Regions from separate parts of the Homo sapiens genome. Here region 1 is linked to region 2. The links come from fine-mapping of genetic effects on gene expression. A gene starts in region 2. The other region holds a variant in brackets. All regions are shown on one strand. Distances are from middle to middle. Region 1 overlaps TANK-AS1 (TANK antisense RNA 1). Region 2 holds the start of TANK (TRAF family member associated NFKB activator).

What was found. PIP is the estimated chance that this variant, and not a neighbour inherited with it, causes the effect.
Region 1: its variant is fine-mapped to the expression of TANK in whole blood (INTERVAL, PIP 0.97).

Annotation. Positions count from the first base shown.
Region 1 is chr2:161,122,373-161,130,722 of GRCh38, reverse strand. The region is part of intron 2 of TANK-AS1 (TANK antisense RNA 1); the gene reads left to right. Among named protein-coding and RNA genes, the nearest start is that of TANK-AS1, 34 kb to the left of the region's middle. The variant G/TGTGG (reference allele first, on the strand shown) is at 3,846.
Region 2 is chr2:161,156,668-161,165,017 of GRCh38, reverse strand. It overlaps TANK (TRAF family member associated NFKB activator), which reads right to left and starts at 4,590. Exons shown (of 8, transcript NM_001199135.3): 1 at 4,532-4,590. It overlaps TANK-AS1 (TANK antisense RNA 1), which reads left to right and starts at 4,728. Exons shown (of 3, transcript NR_187173.1): 1 at 4,728-4,886; 2 at 5,782-5,853. RefSeq lists enhancers at 527-696, 4,117-4,880.

The DNA.
Region 1 (8,350 bases), 34 kb after region 2:
GGCATGTTAAGAATAGCATAATTGAAGATGGCAGGAGGATGGGAAGGGAAAAGGAGGGTGATGCAGAAGAGGTGCTGATATGATTGGCTTTGTGTCCCCATAATCCCCACGTGTCAAGGAAGAGACCAGATGGAGGTAGTTGAATCATGGTGGGTGGGGGTTTCCCCCATGCTGTTCTCGTGATAGTCAGTTCTCACGAGATCTAATGGTTTTATAAGGGACTCTTCCCTCTTCGCTTGGCACGCCACCTTCCTGCCCCCTGGCGAAGAAGGCGCTTTGTTTTCCCCTTCACCTTCTACCATGACTGTACATTTTATGAGGCTTCCCCAACCATACTGAACCGTAAGTCAATTAAACCTCTTTCCTTTATAAATTACCCAGTCTTGGGCAGTTGTTCATGCAGTACGCAAACGGACTAACACAGGTGCTCTTGTTGAGAAGTGGAGGAGCAAATTAGACATGCTGTCTCTTTTCAAATGCCAATTTAGAAAAATAGGGCAACCTGGGAGCAGATTCAATACAATTAGTCAAGGAAGATGATAATGCACATTTGTTTCTGCAGTTTTACTCATCCTTCCATTTTTCCTTTCTAATCTGTTATGTATAGCTTAATATGTCTCATAAAAAATACATGATACTTTCTACAGGGTACAAGGTGAACTATTTAAGTTTCCATAAAAAGTCTCTGTAAGCTGACAGAATTTAATCAGAAAATGAGACATCTCACCATTGAAGAATTTGTTTTAGATATTATACATTCTACTTTCTGTTTTATTGGCCAAGATAGCAATACATTTAGTTTATTACCAATTAACCTTTCTATTTTGATCTATGCACTGGGATTTCTCTTTTCTAAAGTTGATGAGAAACACCAGCCAAAAGAATGAGCCTCACAGGCATTTTCTTTCTAAACTGAGAAACCTAGAAAAGTGGTTTTGATATTAGGATAAAATAGAAATTACTGAACTCCCCTCAAAGAGGTAAGGAATATATAAATTGTAGAAAACAAATTTGCATTACCTGAAATATATTTCTTTTGGAATTATAAATTCATGAAATTGAAATTGCTATGAGATGCCTGTCATCAATAATTTTCTATGTGAGAACACAGTAATTTAGTACTGATACAATTACTAATATTAGTAGGATTAATAATAATAGTTCATACTTGTAATTATCTATAAATGAGAAAGATAAAAAATGTCAGCCTGTCTGTAACCTCTAAGACACAATGGTGGTGAGAAAGAAATCAAAGAGGAGAAGAGAATAGAGGGAGAGATGGAAAGAATAATCCATAAACTCTGGGTTTTTCTATTACTTCAATAAAATAAGTCAAATTCTCAATGAGATCTGACCTTTGAAAACTGTTTAGCATGACTCCAGGGGGATGTTGGGAGGATTAACTAGCTGAAGCTTGCAGAGAGATTTCAAAGTTCCTTGTGTGTTATTTATTCCTTGCTTTACCAGTTCAGTTCCTTTTTAATTTGATCATATTTGGTGGGATGCCAGAGCCATGATAAAATATCCAATAAACACGGGTTTCAAGTAAAATCACAAGCTATTGTTTGAGGAGGAAAGATTGAGGTAGTTCTAAAAGTGTAGAGGTAATTCTGTGCGTAGACATGCTATTTTTAAAAGATTTTTTTAAGTTAAATCACTTCAAAGAGCAGGAAACGGACCCAAAGAGATTAATTGATTTTCTAAATATCAAACAGCTGACTCATAATTTTGACAGTTTTTCACTGGCATTAGAGATCCTGGCTTCAAAGTACTTGATCACCTTTGGCATTATAATTTGAAGATGCTGTTATGGTTTGGAAGCTGAGTGGGATGGAATTGGTGAACTTTTTCTAATTATTCAATTGGTGAAAGAACTGTGTGTTTTATTCTTCTCTTATCATTGGGTTTCAGATTTTAAAATATTGTTTGGATGGAAAAAAACTTTGTAGAAACACCTCTTTCTCATGTCTCATTTATTTATTCTTTAACCCTTCATTCATCAATTGCAATATGCTGATCAGCTCTTGGGAGAGGGAGCCATAGAACCAAGCCCAGCGGCACTTTCTGGAGCACGTCAGAAGTAACATCCATCTCTCTGCAGAGGAGTTAGGCAAATAGGTGCTGGAGCCATAATGCCTACATTCCAAATCCTGACTTCACCTTTGACAAATGTCTTGCCTAAAACTTATGGTAGTTTTGAGAATTGAATGAATTAGTATGTGTAAAGGATTTAAAACCCTGAGCACATGGTAAGACTATGTAAGAGAGTTTCTTTGTTGTTTTTTATTCATTGATGTATTTTTCTTCACTGTCTCTGTAAAATTAAAATGTGAATTGGCTGGGTATGGTTGCTCATGCCTGTAATCCCACCACTTTGGGAGGTCGAGGTAGGTGGATCACCTGAGGTCAGGAGTTCGAGACCAGCCTGACCAACATGGTGAAACCCTGTCTCTACTAAAAAATACAAAAATTAGCCGAGCATGCTGGCAGGCACCTGTAATCCCAGCTACTCTGGAGGCTGAGGCAGGAGAATTGCTTGAACCCGGAGGGTGGAGGTTGCAGTGAGCCAAGATCACACCATTGCACTCCAGCCTAGGTGACAGAGCAAGACTCTGTCTCAAAAAAAAAAAAAAAAAAATTGTGAATTCATACAAGTTTTGCAGGAAAACTAGATGGCGAGAAATTAAATTATTTAAGCAAGATCATTTTTGTTTGTCTATGCAACTTCTATATTGCCTTTTCCTTTTTCCCCTTGTAGCCTATGTACTGTTTGGGAAGCAAACTCCAACCACTGTCCATGAGTAGGCTAGGACTGGCTCAAACCAGTCAGTACATTATATTTCTCCTACTTTTGTTATTGGCTGAGGGTGGAGTGCATGACACGAGCCAGTCTAACCTTGGTGAATACCAGGACTCTTGCTTGGATTACAGAGCTGAAAGTAAAAGTGAAGCACAGCCTTCATTATTTAGGCTGACAAACAGCCTAAAGCTGTAAGGGTCTTCAACTACAGAATAAAACCATCATCACGAGATGGCCAAAAAGAGAGATGGGGAAAAAATTGGTGTTTTAAAAATTTTAATTAATTTATTTACTTTGAGATGTAGTCTTGCTCTGTCACCCAGGCTGGAGGGCAGTGGCATGATCTCAGCTCACTGCAACCTCTGCCTCCTGGGTCCAAGCAATTCTCATGCCTCCACCTCCTGAGTAACTGGGATACAGTAACTGGGCACAGGCGCATGCCACTGTGCCCGGCTAATGTTTGTATTTTTAGTAGAGATGGGGTTTCACCATGTTGCCCAGGCTGGTCTTGAACTCCTGGCCTCAAATGATCCATCTACCTCGGCCTCCCAAAGTGCTGGGATTACAGGTGTGAGGCACTGTGCCTGGTCAAAACATGGGTCTTTAATAATATTGCTGAACCACTAACTCAAACAACTTTAAAGCTCCCTCTACCTCTTGACTTTTGAATTATGTAATCCCCAAGGTTCCCTCGTATTGTTTAAGCCAGTTTGAGTTGGATTTTCTGTTACTAGCAATTGAAATCTTCTTGCTGTAATACTCTATATGGTCAAAAAGGAGTCGTGAATACAACAATAACCACAACAAATAGCCTTTATGGAGATTTGCTCTACGTCAAACACTGCTCTCAGTATTAATCTTTACAACAAGCCTGTGAGACAGGTATCATGACTCTCAATCATTAGCACTCTAAGTGTGGGACTCTGCATAACATATGCAAAGTATCATGGCTGCAGATCTTGCATTTCCAACATGACCTGTTTTGGCCTATTTTGTGATTACGTGTGTGTGTGTGTGTGTGTGTGTGTGTGTGTGTGTGTGTGTG[G/TGTGG]CTTTTTGAGATGGAGGTCTCTCTATTAGTACTGATACAATTTCTAATAGCAGGATTAATAGTTCATACTTGTAATTCTCTATAAATGAGGAAGATAACAAATGTTAACCTATCTAACGTCTAAGACCCAATGACAGTGAGAAAGAAATAAGAGAGGAGAAAGGAATAGAGGGAGAGATGGAAAGGATAATCTATAAACTCTGGGCTGCTGTGCAGTGACCATTATCAAGTATGATCATAGCTTACTGCAGCCTTGAACTCCTGGACTCAAGCAATCCCCTATTTAGCCTCCTGGGTAGATGGGACTACAGGCATGCATCACTGCACCTGGCTTAGTTTGAGATAATATTTTTGCAGAGAACAGATGTATAAAGTCTAGCTAGTCAGGCTCCTTTTCCCTGCTTCCTCCAGATAATTTTTAAACTGAACACAGAACATATTCATTTGGGTACCATACTGCAGATTAACAGTTGATTAAGTCCCTTGTATATTTCAGTTTGAATTTTTAGTTTAAGGGTTTTGTTTTATTTGATTTTTTGGTTGAGGGTTTAATATGAGAAACTATCTTTCTTGGATTTGAATGCTCACTGGTTTTTTTCTATGTCATTTGTTATAGTCAGGATATTAGAGTCATTTGAAATAGACTACTCTGGCAGAAGGGCAAACTATCTTCTGGTTCTTTGCATACTTTGGGTTTTTTAAATAAGTGCTTGGAAAGTTTATTCCTTAGGAATGAAGGCCTTTTTCCCCAACCCCTCTTATACCAGTCAAGGTTCAATCAGGAGACAAAATCAGATAGTAATTAGAACAGGGAAAGTTTAGTATAAATAACTATTAACTATACCAGGTGCTGATCTATAAAGGAGTAAAGATACTCAAAAGGATATCTGGGGCTCAGGGAGGGTATCTAAAGAAGGAACAAATGTGGGAAAGAGAACCTCTTTCCTAAGGCCGGAATTCAGACCACAGTGGAAAAGGTGTGGTTGTAGACCAGGAGATTCCAGAGAAGTGTGCTTGGTTGCCCAGGCCAGAACTGGTCCACAGATGCTGGGCAATGAGTAAACCACCCCTCCAAAGTGCACGTGGGCCAAGGCTGGGAAGCTGACTTTCGGGACACCTGTGAGATTCATCGGGAAGCTGTCAATAGGAATGCCACTGCAACTCGATGAGGAGCCATCAGTATGTATGCCACTGCAACTTGATGGGGTGTCACTAGAGCAACCTTACATGCACAGTTGGTAGCCATGAGATAGGAACAAGAAGAAAATAGAAAACACCAGAACCAGGAAGAGGAGCCCTATTCCTCTTGTAGTGTTTCTCCACCTCCGTATACAGACAAAGCTTGACACTGTTGTCACTGCAAAGAAGAAATATTTCAACATTCCAGCTTCATTTTTGCCAAGCAGCCAATAAAAGGTGGCTTTGAAGCTGGGATGCAATACATACTTAGCTGGCACACTTTTGAATGCAGGGGATAAGTTTTCATTATACCCTGTTATGTCAACATTCAGCAGTAGCTTTGTTTAAGTATATTACTTACATTATATGAAGGTCAGTGAAGCAGATGTTAACTATAAAATGTCTTTACAGGTGTAGTCCCCACCAACATCTTGGGGCTCCTCAAATCTTCCTTGAATGATGTCTGAAATAGGTTAGATCTTTATTTGTAATATAATGCTTTGACCCCAGTTAAAATATAACTACCTCATGAATGAGAACTATTATACTGTTATTGGCTATTAAACTTTAAGATGATTGAAGGTGATAAATTACCCCAAGAGGCTGAGGAGAGGACTTTAACTGACTCCCTGTATTTTAATCAACATTCTCTCTTGAAACTTTCGACAAATAGTATCAAACCATCTTAATGAGCTCTCAGAGTATTCTCTTATTTTCTATCCACTGAAACATGGTAAAACCCTGAATATGCTCTTGTCTGAACATATGTTTATGTTAATGAGGAAAGTTTACTTTATGTAGGAAGAAAAATTGTTTCTATTTCTGACATGATAAGATGTAGGAACAGGCTACAAACTTCAGACTTTATGTGAAAGAACATTTGAAGATAATGAAAGTTTATTTCCTCTTCTTGAAAGATGTTAAAACTTTATAAAAGACACAGAATTCTAAATTGACTTTTTAGGTTAATTTAAAATTTGTTAGGGGTATGGTTCAGAAAGTTTGTGCAGCTATAAGATATAGAGCACTTAAACTTATAAGTAGCAGAATTTTTTTCCCCTTCCATTAACCAGTTTATTTGATGTGCTATCTGCTAGAGCTGCCATAACAAAATGCCACTGATCAGCGGGCCTAAACAACAGAAATTTATTTTCTCACAGTTCTAGAGGCTGGAGGTTCAAAATTAAATTGCTGGCAAGGTTGATTCCCTCTAAAGGCCTTGAGGAACAAACCCATTCCAGGCCTGTCTCCTTGGCCTGCAGTTAGCTATTCTCTTCTTCTCCTTCACAGGGTGGTTCCCCTGTACAGGCAGGTCCCTTGTGACTGTGTGTGGCTAAATTTCCTCTTATAAGCACACCAGTCTGATTAGATTATAGCCTATCCTAGTGGCCCCATTTTAACTTGATCATCTCTTTAAAAGTTCTATCTCCCAAAACATTTTCTGAGGTTAGGGGGGTTAGGGCTTGAACACACGAATTTGGTGGGACTCACTTTAGCCCATAGCATTGGATGAACTAAGCATGATATATGCAGAAAGCACTTAATTTCTTTTCTCACCACTGCCTTTTATCTGTGCTATTTGAATTTCTAGATCAGCTGTTTGGGTGGCTTCTTAAATTCATAATGTGTGTTCTTAATCTTCTCTGTTCTAGGGTTTCTGATGAAAATCAGAAGCAACAGAAAAAAGCCTGTATATACTGCTATATGCATCAGTAATTTTACTACTGAGACAATTTAAACTCAAAGTTTAGATTCAGGTTATATCTATAGACAGAACAAGAAGGTTTGATTTGTGGACTTGTTTTCTCAAACTATTGCTTCAGTCAATGTGGTTGGACCAGTTTGGTGTGTAGAATTAGTCTCAGAGACATTCATCATTCTTTCAGGGTGGCTCCCAGACAGGCGAGTGGATAGACTGGGTAAATGGGAGTAATTTTGTAGGTAGGGCTGACAAAGATTTCCAAGAGATCTACTTAAGGTCTCTTAGGCCTTCTTTCCCAGGAAGCCTGAATCAAGGGGCTTCACTTAGCATCCATCTATCTCTGGTCTGTGTTCCCGATCCTCAAATAATGACCTAATTCTGTTCTACCATTTTCCTAATTTTGGCATGTCCACCAGACTCAAACAGCCTGTGTTCCTGTGATATTTCTGCTTTACTCCTGATTTCAATTATGTTTCCAATCCTGGATTTACAATCTGGGCTTGATTCCTGCTACTCCCTTGCTTGAGTTCTGTTGTCTGTGGCCTTGAATTGCTTGACTATGAATCATTCCATTTCATGACTCAGCAGGAAGCACCCTGCCACTGCTTTCACAGCTTGCCTACTCGTAAAGATTTCAGAAGTTTTTATTTCTCTAATTTCAAAAGCATTTTCTTTGGTTTCTTCTTTATTGTCATTGAAGCCAGTTTCAAAGCATAGGAAAACAGAGTTTTGCCTTCTCTACAAATCCAACACAACTTCTTAAAAGTGATTACAGAATTAAATCCTGACAGCGACTCAGGAACTTGTTTCTTTTCTGGATACTTATCCTGTGTGGGCTGCTCATAAATGCAGCCCATACCATGTAAAGTAATCAGTGGCAACTTGGTGGGAATCAAACATTCATATTCTGGAAAAACTGATAAAACAAAGTTCTCTTGTTTAGGGCTGGCATTTCCTCAATACAGAGGAAAGAGGATTGTCATAACTAGGATATCATAGAACCTATCAATATGGACCAACAGGTAGGAGAAGGAAGCTGGGATGGGGCAAATAGAAATCAGCCTTCTAGGAACAGCTCGTGTCTACTGCAGAGAGCATGGAAAGGATGATAAACCTGGAAGTGGTTTAGGTTGGTACTGATTTTCAAACCAGATTCATTCCCTGCACAAAGACCCTAGTCTTAGTTATTGATGAAGAAAATATTACTTGCTATCAAAAGTTCCTCCTGTTACTTAAGCCTACAGTAGTACCTAAAGTGGAGTGTATGGACTATTGTTTATGATGAAGTTTTTATCAGACTAGGTGAAATGAGAAGGATAAGGCTAGTGTAGTGATTTTTCCTATAAAGCTAAATTTATTCACTTTTAAGGAACTGCTTTTTATTATGAGATTAGTTCCCTCCTAGTTATGTTTTGGTATTAACATGTGCTTTTAAAAAATAAAACAACACTGTTAATGGATGGTAGTTATTTGTTTTTATATCTTTGCTTAGCTAATTAAAGATTAGCAATCTTATATCAGTCCCCAAATTGTTTTTGAAAATATTACCTAGTTCATAAAATCCAAATATTTTGGAAGTTCTGATTGAAGCCACACACTATCCGGCGATATAACAATGGGGAAA
Region 2 (8,350 bases):
ATTATAGATCACTAGTACTCAAAATGTTTACTCTCATAACTTACTACTGATAATTACCATTTATAGAGAATATATCTCTGAAGGTAAAAAGTTACTGTCCAGGAAATTTTCCATGAGACAAACAATTGCCATCATTTACTTCCCAAACTCTTTTCCTTAAGAAAAATACGTCCCTTTAAAAATGTTTTTCTTGGTTGCATAGCAATGTGAATGCACTTAACATTATTGAACCATATACTTTAAAAAAAGGTTAAGATGGTAAATTTTATGTTATGTGAATTTTACCACAATTTAAAAAGCTTTTATAGATTAGGAATTGGAAAATGTGACACATGTACTACATAAGTCCCAAAGCCTGTTTTCAGTTGCATAGGGCTTGGTACCAGTTACCCTCAACTTATTTGAACAGTGACCAAATACTGCACTTAGTTCAAAAGACTTTGAAAATTAATTAACAACTCACTGAAAAGGTAGTTCATTTCATATTCTGTTATCCCTTCCTGAAGATAATCATAATCTTGGTTCCGAACTATAAAGCGATTTTTGTTACATATCTAAATAATAGCCTCCTCTTTCCCTGTATTTATGATTCAAAACCATGGCAGCAAGCATAGGAGATAACAGGTGGGAAATGGCAGCCACAGCATAAATCCTACAGGAAATAGAAACTAAAACTAGGCTTTACGTAACTGAACACAAACGAACTGCAATTAAACAGTAATATTTTATGCTTATAAGGTGTTAGAAAACAAAAAGGATAAACAGTAACAGTCAATCAGCTAATGCATAGCATCGAAATAGCGAAGCTTTATGTCAACAGTCTATTTTTATTTACCATTTGCTTTTGGACAAAGGTATGGTTTTAAAAAACATGCAGTCTTCTTTCATCATAGGGCAACTCCCCAATTATTTTTGCTATAGTAGCCCATAAATGGAAATAAAATACCCACGCATTCACATAATGCCTGCATCCTACTGTTAGTAACGCTTCAGTGTCTGTAGGTATCCTCCACAGTTCATAGATGCAAACTGCTAAATTACATTACCTGTCTCAGGTCATATTCTTGAAGGTGATCAAAAAGCATTTGAAATAATCATTTATAAAAGTCTATCAAAGATTACACTATTATCGAGGTATTAACAGTAAACCATTAGTCAAGTAAAAAGGTGGGCTTCTGTTAGATGACAGCACTGCCCCATGTGCGTGCACATACCATGCACATACCTGAACTATGCTAATGATTTTCACTTCATGTTAAATAAGTATAAGCATGTTAAGCTTGTATATTTTTTCACCCACTCATTTTGAAACCCTCTGTAGGATTTGGCTACAGTAAAATGTCAGCTTGGTTATTACCTTTAAATTAAGAAATTTCCCGGCAAAATTGGGAAGCTAGTGACAATAAAGTGAAACTGATGCTTTCCCAGTTGAGTTTCACTCTTGGTTTCTTTCAGGGCATAGACAAATTTGCCCATGTAGAAGCAATACCCTTGCTTCTGTAACATAACTGAAGAAGAGAAGAGAAAGAATAGCAAGACATTTTACTTAACAGCCTCAGCCTACCTACAGCATTTTTCCTTGTCCATGAAAAAAAAGTTGTGTGTAGGGGGGAAATAACCAGCATCAGTACAGCAGCTGTTCTTAGTTCTTGACATTACCGTGTCCCAGACTCTTTCATTCAATTGTATTTACTCCAAGGAGTTTTTGTTTGTTCTGAACCATTTTGCTGAGTATTGTTGCTGTCTTAAGAACAATGAACTCCCAGACCCACATGGTTTCATGAGTGAATTCTTTCAGATCTTCAAAGAGCAGAGTTCTTAGGCTATTTAAACTACATCAGAGCGGAGGAAGAGGAACTCTGCCCAGTTCTTTTTAGGAACCAGCATAACCTTGATACCAAAACCTAGCAAAAATAACAGAAAAAGGTGAGTATAAAATGAATCTCAATCATTGATTTTAAATAAAAATGCTACCAAAGGAACCAATATATACTTAAATATTACACCATGACCAAGCGTAAGATTGGTTCACAAACTGCAAATATACTAAAGTAATTCACTATCCTGTTAGGTCAAAGATGAAAAGTACCTATGAAAGGTTATGATAGATGTCAAAAAGCCATTTGACAAAATCCAACTTCCATTCCTGATAAAAATGTTAAGAAGTAATGAATATACACACCAAATGAACATCCAATATCTATTATTTAAAATTGTTCTCAAAGTGCTATCTAATACAATAGACACTCCCCATCCCCAGTTGCAAAAATGACTTTGGATGCAATCCAAACAGTTCTCTGCAAAAATCACAATGAGCTAGAAATATTAAAGGAAACTTCCCTGATAAATATAATTTATTAGATATTAATAGTAACTTCATATTTAATGATGACATAATAAAAACATCCCCAAACTAAGAAACAAGATAAAGGATGGCCAGAATCACTGTTTTATTTACCACTATTCTGGGGAAGCCAGCAATTCACTAAAGCAAAGAAAGAAAGAGATAAGATGAATTATAATTAGATGATTGTTTTCCTAGAAAATTCAAGTGAAACAATTTATTAAAATTAATAAATTTAGAAAGTTGGCCAGATACATAAACACTCATCTACATACCAGTCACAAAATATAAGAAAATATAATGGTTAAATCCCAAAAAGAGTATTTTAATGAAGCATGAACAGTTTATGTTAAATTTTATCTCAAAGATAATGCAATTATATTCAAGAAAATTTTGAAAAGGAAAAATGAAGAGGGACTTGTCCTATGAATTACTAGAAAACGTAATATCAAAGCAGATTGGTATTTTTAAAGGAAGAGACAAAAAGATCAAAGCAACAGATGAGTCTAAAGAAAAGATGCATGTACACTTGAGAATTTACTATATTAAGGAGGTATTTCTAGTCAGTTGGGAGAGAAATGATTTCAACAAATGATTTCAGGAAAAAATGGCTGCCTAGTCATAAAAACAAAGAAAAAAATTAAATCCTTATCTTAGCATACAAAAATCATTTTCAGATGTTTTAATGAGTAAATCATAAAAAGAGAATTAACAGGCAATATAGGAGAAGATTTTAAGAATTTTTGAGTGGGGACTACCTTCTTACCTGAGATAAAAAGCCTGGGCATTTTAAACCAAAGCATTGATAATTCTTGAAAATATTTGCCATATATTTCACAAAGGATTAATGAAATCTGTAGTCTAATGAGAAACAGATAATTTTGAAGAATACTGGGCAATATATACGGACAGGACATAGTAAGTGACAGTTAACTATAATTTGGTACATCTACACAATGCAGTACCACGCCAACATTACAATAAAATAGAGCTACATATGGCAAGACTTTCACCATATATATATATTTAATCTGAAACAGATTATCGAACAGTATGCATAATCTCATTTTCATAAGAAAGCAAAATAACATGGTTATGCACATACAGGAAAGATGTGGAAGGCTTGGATTACAACTGGGGAGAGGACTGAGAAGGATTTCACTTCCTGCTTTGCACATAGTTGTATTATTTGAGGATCCCTCCTCTCTCAAATGAGGACACAATAATTTTTAACAGAATGCACTGCTTGCTTCTCTGCTACCTCTCGTTTGGGTGTGTATTCCAACCGCGGTAAGAAGGCAGGTCATTTTCTTTTCCTTCAATTTCACGTCGCTTCTTCACTTCCTTTACTACCATCTCTCCCTTATTATAACTTGTCAAAAGCATCTCCTGTGAGGTGAGATAAACACCACTTTACATAGCAAGGCTGCTTTACTTTTGCTCGTTATAGCATAACAATAAAGGCACAGCTCTTCTTTGATTATCCTCCCCCTTTCTACTTCTAGAAAAGCACAGCTTTTTTGCCTGTAACTCGTTGCTAGTCAGTTTACACCGGCGTGAGGACTCTACCTAACGCCTGGGTTCCCACTGTGGGCGGGGTTGGCTTCTGTTCTTCCTGCCTTGGCCACCCACTCCCTCCGTGACCCTCTGGGAAGTTACCCAACTTCTCATTGACCAGGCTATGATGACACCCCACAGGAAGGCAGAGGGGAATTGTGCAACCACCTTGGGAAAACAACAGAAAGAACCAATTAAGTTTTCGAAAGAGTAACCACGATACTACTTGATTCTAGGAGGCAGTCTCTCTCCCGAAGGGAAGTCGGGAATGTTCCTGGAGGGTCCACTGCTCACCTCGACACCGCAGGCCCTTCCACCCCCATTTCCCGGGCAAAGCAGCCGGGACGAGTCCCTCCCTTGAAGCCGTTGGGGCAGAGGCCGACGATGCTATGCTGACATCGCGGGCCCGGAAACCAACCCACAAGGAGTCCGCTCCGGGGGAAGGACTCGCGTGGTTTCTCCCGCACAAAATCCCTCCCCAAACTGCAAATTGGTTGTCTCCGCTGCTCCTCGGCTTCTCTCCCTGCGGCGCCCCTACTGTCAGCGCGTCCCTCTCGCTCACGCATACAAATTCTCCGACGTCGTGCTTGACGGATTCGGACACACCAATTCACAAAGTTTCTTACTCACACAGTTCACGCTTTCAGCTGCGTTCCCTCTCCCCTCAGGTCGCCGGCGCCTGGCCGAGTGACTCCAACCGGAAGTTGCATTTTGTTCCAGTTCAGAGGGCAGTGCCTGCGCGCGGAGCCATTAACTCTTCACCTCCACCCAACAAGGCCAGGGCCCTTCCGCCCTGCCCCACCCAGCCCAGGGCTCTTCTGCCCCGCCCCTGCCCGCCCCGCCTAGCGCCCTCCCCCAGCCCTGCCCAGCCAAGTCCCCGCCTCTTAGAAAAAAAAAGCGTCAGCAGCGGAAGAGAATCCTATGTCAAGTGTAAAGGTCACTTGTGAGTCTTTGCTGGATTTTTTTGCCAAACGATAAATAACCGGTAAATAAATAACCAGTAAATAAATAACATCACCCTATATATGAGTTAGAGTACACAAGAATCACCTGAGAAACAAAATGTAGTTTCACCAACCGACTCCTACAGCTTTCATTTCAGAGCAACTGGAGTGAAGCCCAGGAACCTGCATTTTCAACAGATCCTCGTAAATTTATGTAATTAAACGTGGTTAAAGTCCACACTCTGAGAAACACTACATATACACATACCCATTTGGTTTCTCCCCAACTGGTAGTATTTTTCACTAAATGTATTTGTTAAAGAGGAATGGCTGGAAATGGAGGTGGAACTTTATTAGAAAATTTCCCATGAATTAAGACTTTCCCATTATTCCAATTCCTAGCCATGCATGAATATTATCTAAGATTCATATCTTAGATACCGCAAGAAAGATATCTTTTCCCTTTAGGGCAAGAGGATGAGGTCTGGCTGCCCCAATTTCTCCCTGTATTTCTGAATCATGGATGTTTACACATCTTTCCTTAGGCCAGTAAGTCCAAGGATTTAAAAACCTGCCAAGTTGCAGTGCATTCTGTCTAGTTATCTTGAATGTTGCTGTATACTTTTAAAAGTCAAAGCCTAAATATATTTGAAACAATGTTTTTAACAAACAGAAACTTCTTATATATAACGTTTTGACCAGTTGAATAGTTTTCTTGTAATAAGTAATTGAGTTAAACATCACAATACAGTACTGCTTTAAAAAAATTATTTAAACTTTTTTTGAGGGCAGTTTTAGATTCACAGCAAAATGGAAAGGAATGTCCAGAGATTTTCCATATACTTTCTGCCCCGACACAAGCATAGCCCTTCCCCATTATCAACATCCCTCACCCCAGTGTGATGAAAAAAAGCTGTTATAAATATCTGTGTGCAGGTTTTTTTGTGCGGACATAAGTTTTCATCTCCTTTGGATAAATACCAAGTAGTATGATTGCTGGATCATAAGGTAAGAGAATGTTTAGTTTTGTAAGCAATTGCCAAATTGTCTTCCAAAGTGGCTACCATTTTGCATTCCCACCAGGAATGAATAAGAGTTCCTGTTGCTCCAAATCCTTGCCAGCATTTGGTGTTGTAAGTGTTCTGGATTTTGGCCATTCTAATAGATGTGTGTCATATTTTATTGTTGTTTTAATTTGCATTTCCCTGATGACATATGACGTGGAGGATCTTTTCATATGGCTATTTATTTACCATCTGGTTAACTTCTTTGGGGAGGTAAAGGCCTTTGGCCCATTTTTTAATCAGGTTGTTTTCCAAATGTTGAGTTTTAAGTGTTCTTTGTATTTTTGATAAGTCCTTTATCAGATATGTCTTTTGCAAAAAATTTTCTCCTTGTCTGTGGCTTGTCTTTTTACTCTCTTGACAATATCTATTGCAAAGCAGAAATTCTTAATTTTGATGAAGTCCAGTTTATTCAGCACTGCTTGAGCAAATTAAATAAGCTGATTTGAAGATTTCTGATTGAAATAGTGGAATTTAGTAATATACTCAGAGTCTAAAGCTGAATGCATAGGCATTTTGAAATATGGAGGTGCTAAAAACTTTGAATAAGGAAATAGCTAGATATACACATTTCTTAAATGCGTATTTTTCTCTTTCCACTTCCATGATGTTGTAGTCTTGAAGAGAAGTGGCTGCATAATTCCCCTGTATGTGAAATATGCATAAATGCTGGTAGAATTATTTTGTAATCAATGCTAAAATGGCATCAAACATTTTCCTTTTCCTATAATGATGATTTTTTAAGAATTCACATACAGTATGTTTTACAAAGGTTAGAAATTGAGTTGACATTTATTTGAGGAATAATCTTTTAAAATAATGACATAATTTTATTCCAATTTTCCTTCACTCATATTATTATATACCTCAAGTTAGTGAGCAGTGATGTGGCTTTGGAGGTTGGGTATGGTGGCATGAAAATGGGGAACTGACCAGGTGTGGTGCTCACACATATAATCCTAACACTTTGGGAGGCCAAGGGCAGAGGATCACTTGAGCACAGGAGTTTCAGACCAGCCTGGGCAACATAGTGAGACCACGTCTCTATTTAATAATATTAATTAATGAATTATTATTAAAAGAAAATGAGGGAATTGCAGGCCTTTAAAAGATATTTTGGAACCTGGACGGGTGCAGTGGCTCACGCCTGTAATCCCAGCACTTCGGGAGGCCAAGGCGGGCTGATCACTTGAGGTCAGGAGTTTGAGACCAGCCTGGCCAACATGGTGAAAACCCGTTTCTGCTGAAAATACAAAAATTAGCCAGGTTTGGTGGTGCACACCTGTAATCCCAGCTATATGGGAGGCTGAGGCAGGAGGATCACTTGAACCCGGAAGGCAGAAATTTCAGTGAGCCAAGATCACGCCACTGCACTCCAGCCTGGGCAACAGAGAGAGACTCTGTCTCAAAAATATTTTGAATCCTAGTTTTAAAACTGCTTAATAATTTATTGAGACTTCTGAATATAAACCTAAGGACAAGGAAACCTGGCAATATAAACAGTTACTATGACTTGGAATGTCAGTTATGTTCTCAGTCAAATCTTTGATGTGCAATATCACTATTAATGGAATCTGGTTGACTTCTGATTTACGATGACATCTGGACTGGCTGATTATATTGCAGACTCTCCAACTAAAATGGCTATGAAAAATCAGAAAAACATGAGAACTCACAATGGCCTTGGAAGGCAGACTGACAACCAGGGCCACTGTGTATGGTTGAGCAGGCTGTGCTCAGTTGCAAAGCCTTGCCTCCTTCAGCCTGTGTCTTCTCAGAGAGGTGCTTTTTCTAACTCACAGAAAAGTACCATAAGAGCAGCTATAACCCTGTTGACAAGCACCCTAGTTCCAGAATTTGATAGGATACTGGACTTATTGCAAGAACTGTGAAGCTGAAATGGACATGTACTTTTTTGTTGGAAGGCAATCAAAGGTGTTGGTATGGAAGGATAGTAAGGAAGCTACCTGCCTCACGGCCCCTACTAGTAATTCCACTACTATGTGTGATGGCTAAGAAGTATTTTACACCTCTTTGCCCTAATCTCTCCCATTAGTTTCTCCACTCTATGACCCATTTTGGAGCTACGGCCTAGAGAATACCAGCAATAACCCAAAGGGAGTGGATAGGTGTAATGCTCTGTGTCCAAGCTTAGGAAACTAATAATGAAAGGGGTTGGGCAGACAGAACTGGGTGTTTGTTTCTCTGGGGGTTTACTTTTTCATATATGGTTCTTATCAAGAAAAAGACAAATCATTGTTTCTGATTAACCAGGAATTCTTCTCTTTATAGTAAAATAACTAGCTATTAAAGGTAAGGAATCTCACCTCAGCCCAACACCCGCAGTGACAAAGTTGATAAATGTCAGCTTCAAACCAAAAAGTTAGCTGTTGACTGTGCATGTCTATATGTCTTCCAGTTCAACATCTATGCTGAAGAAC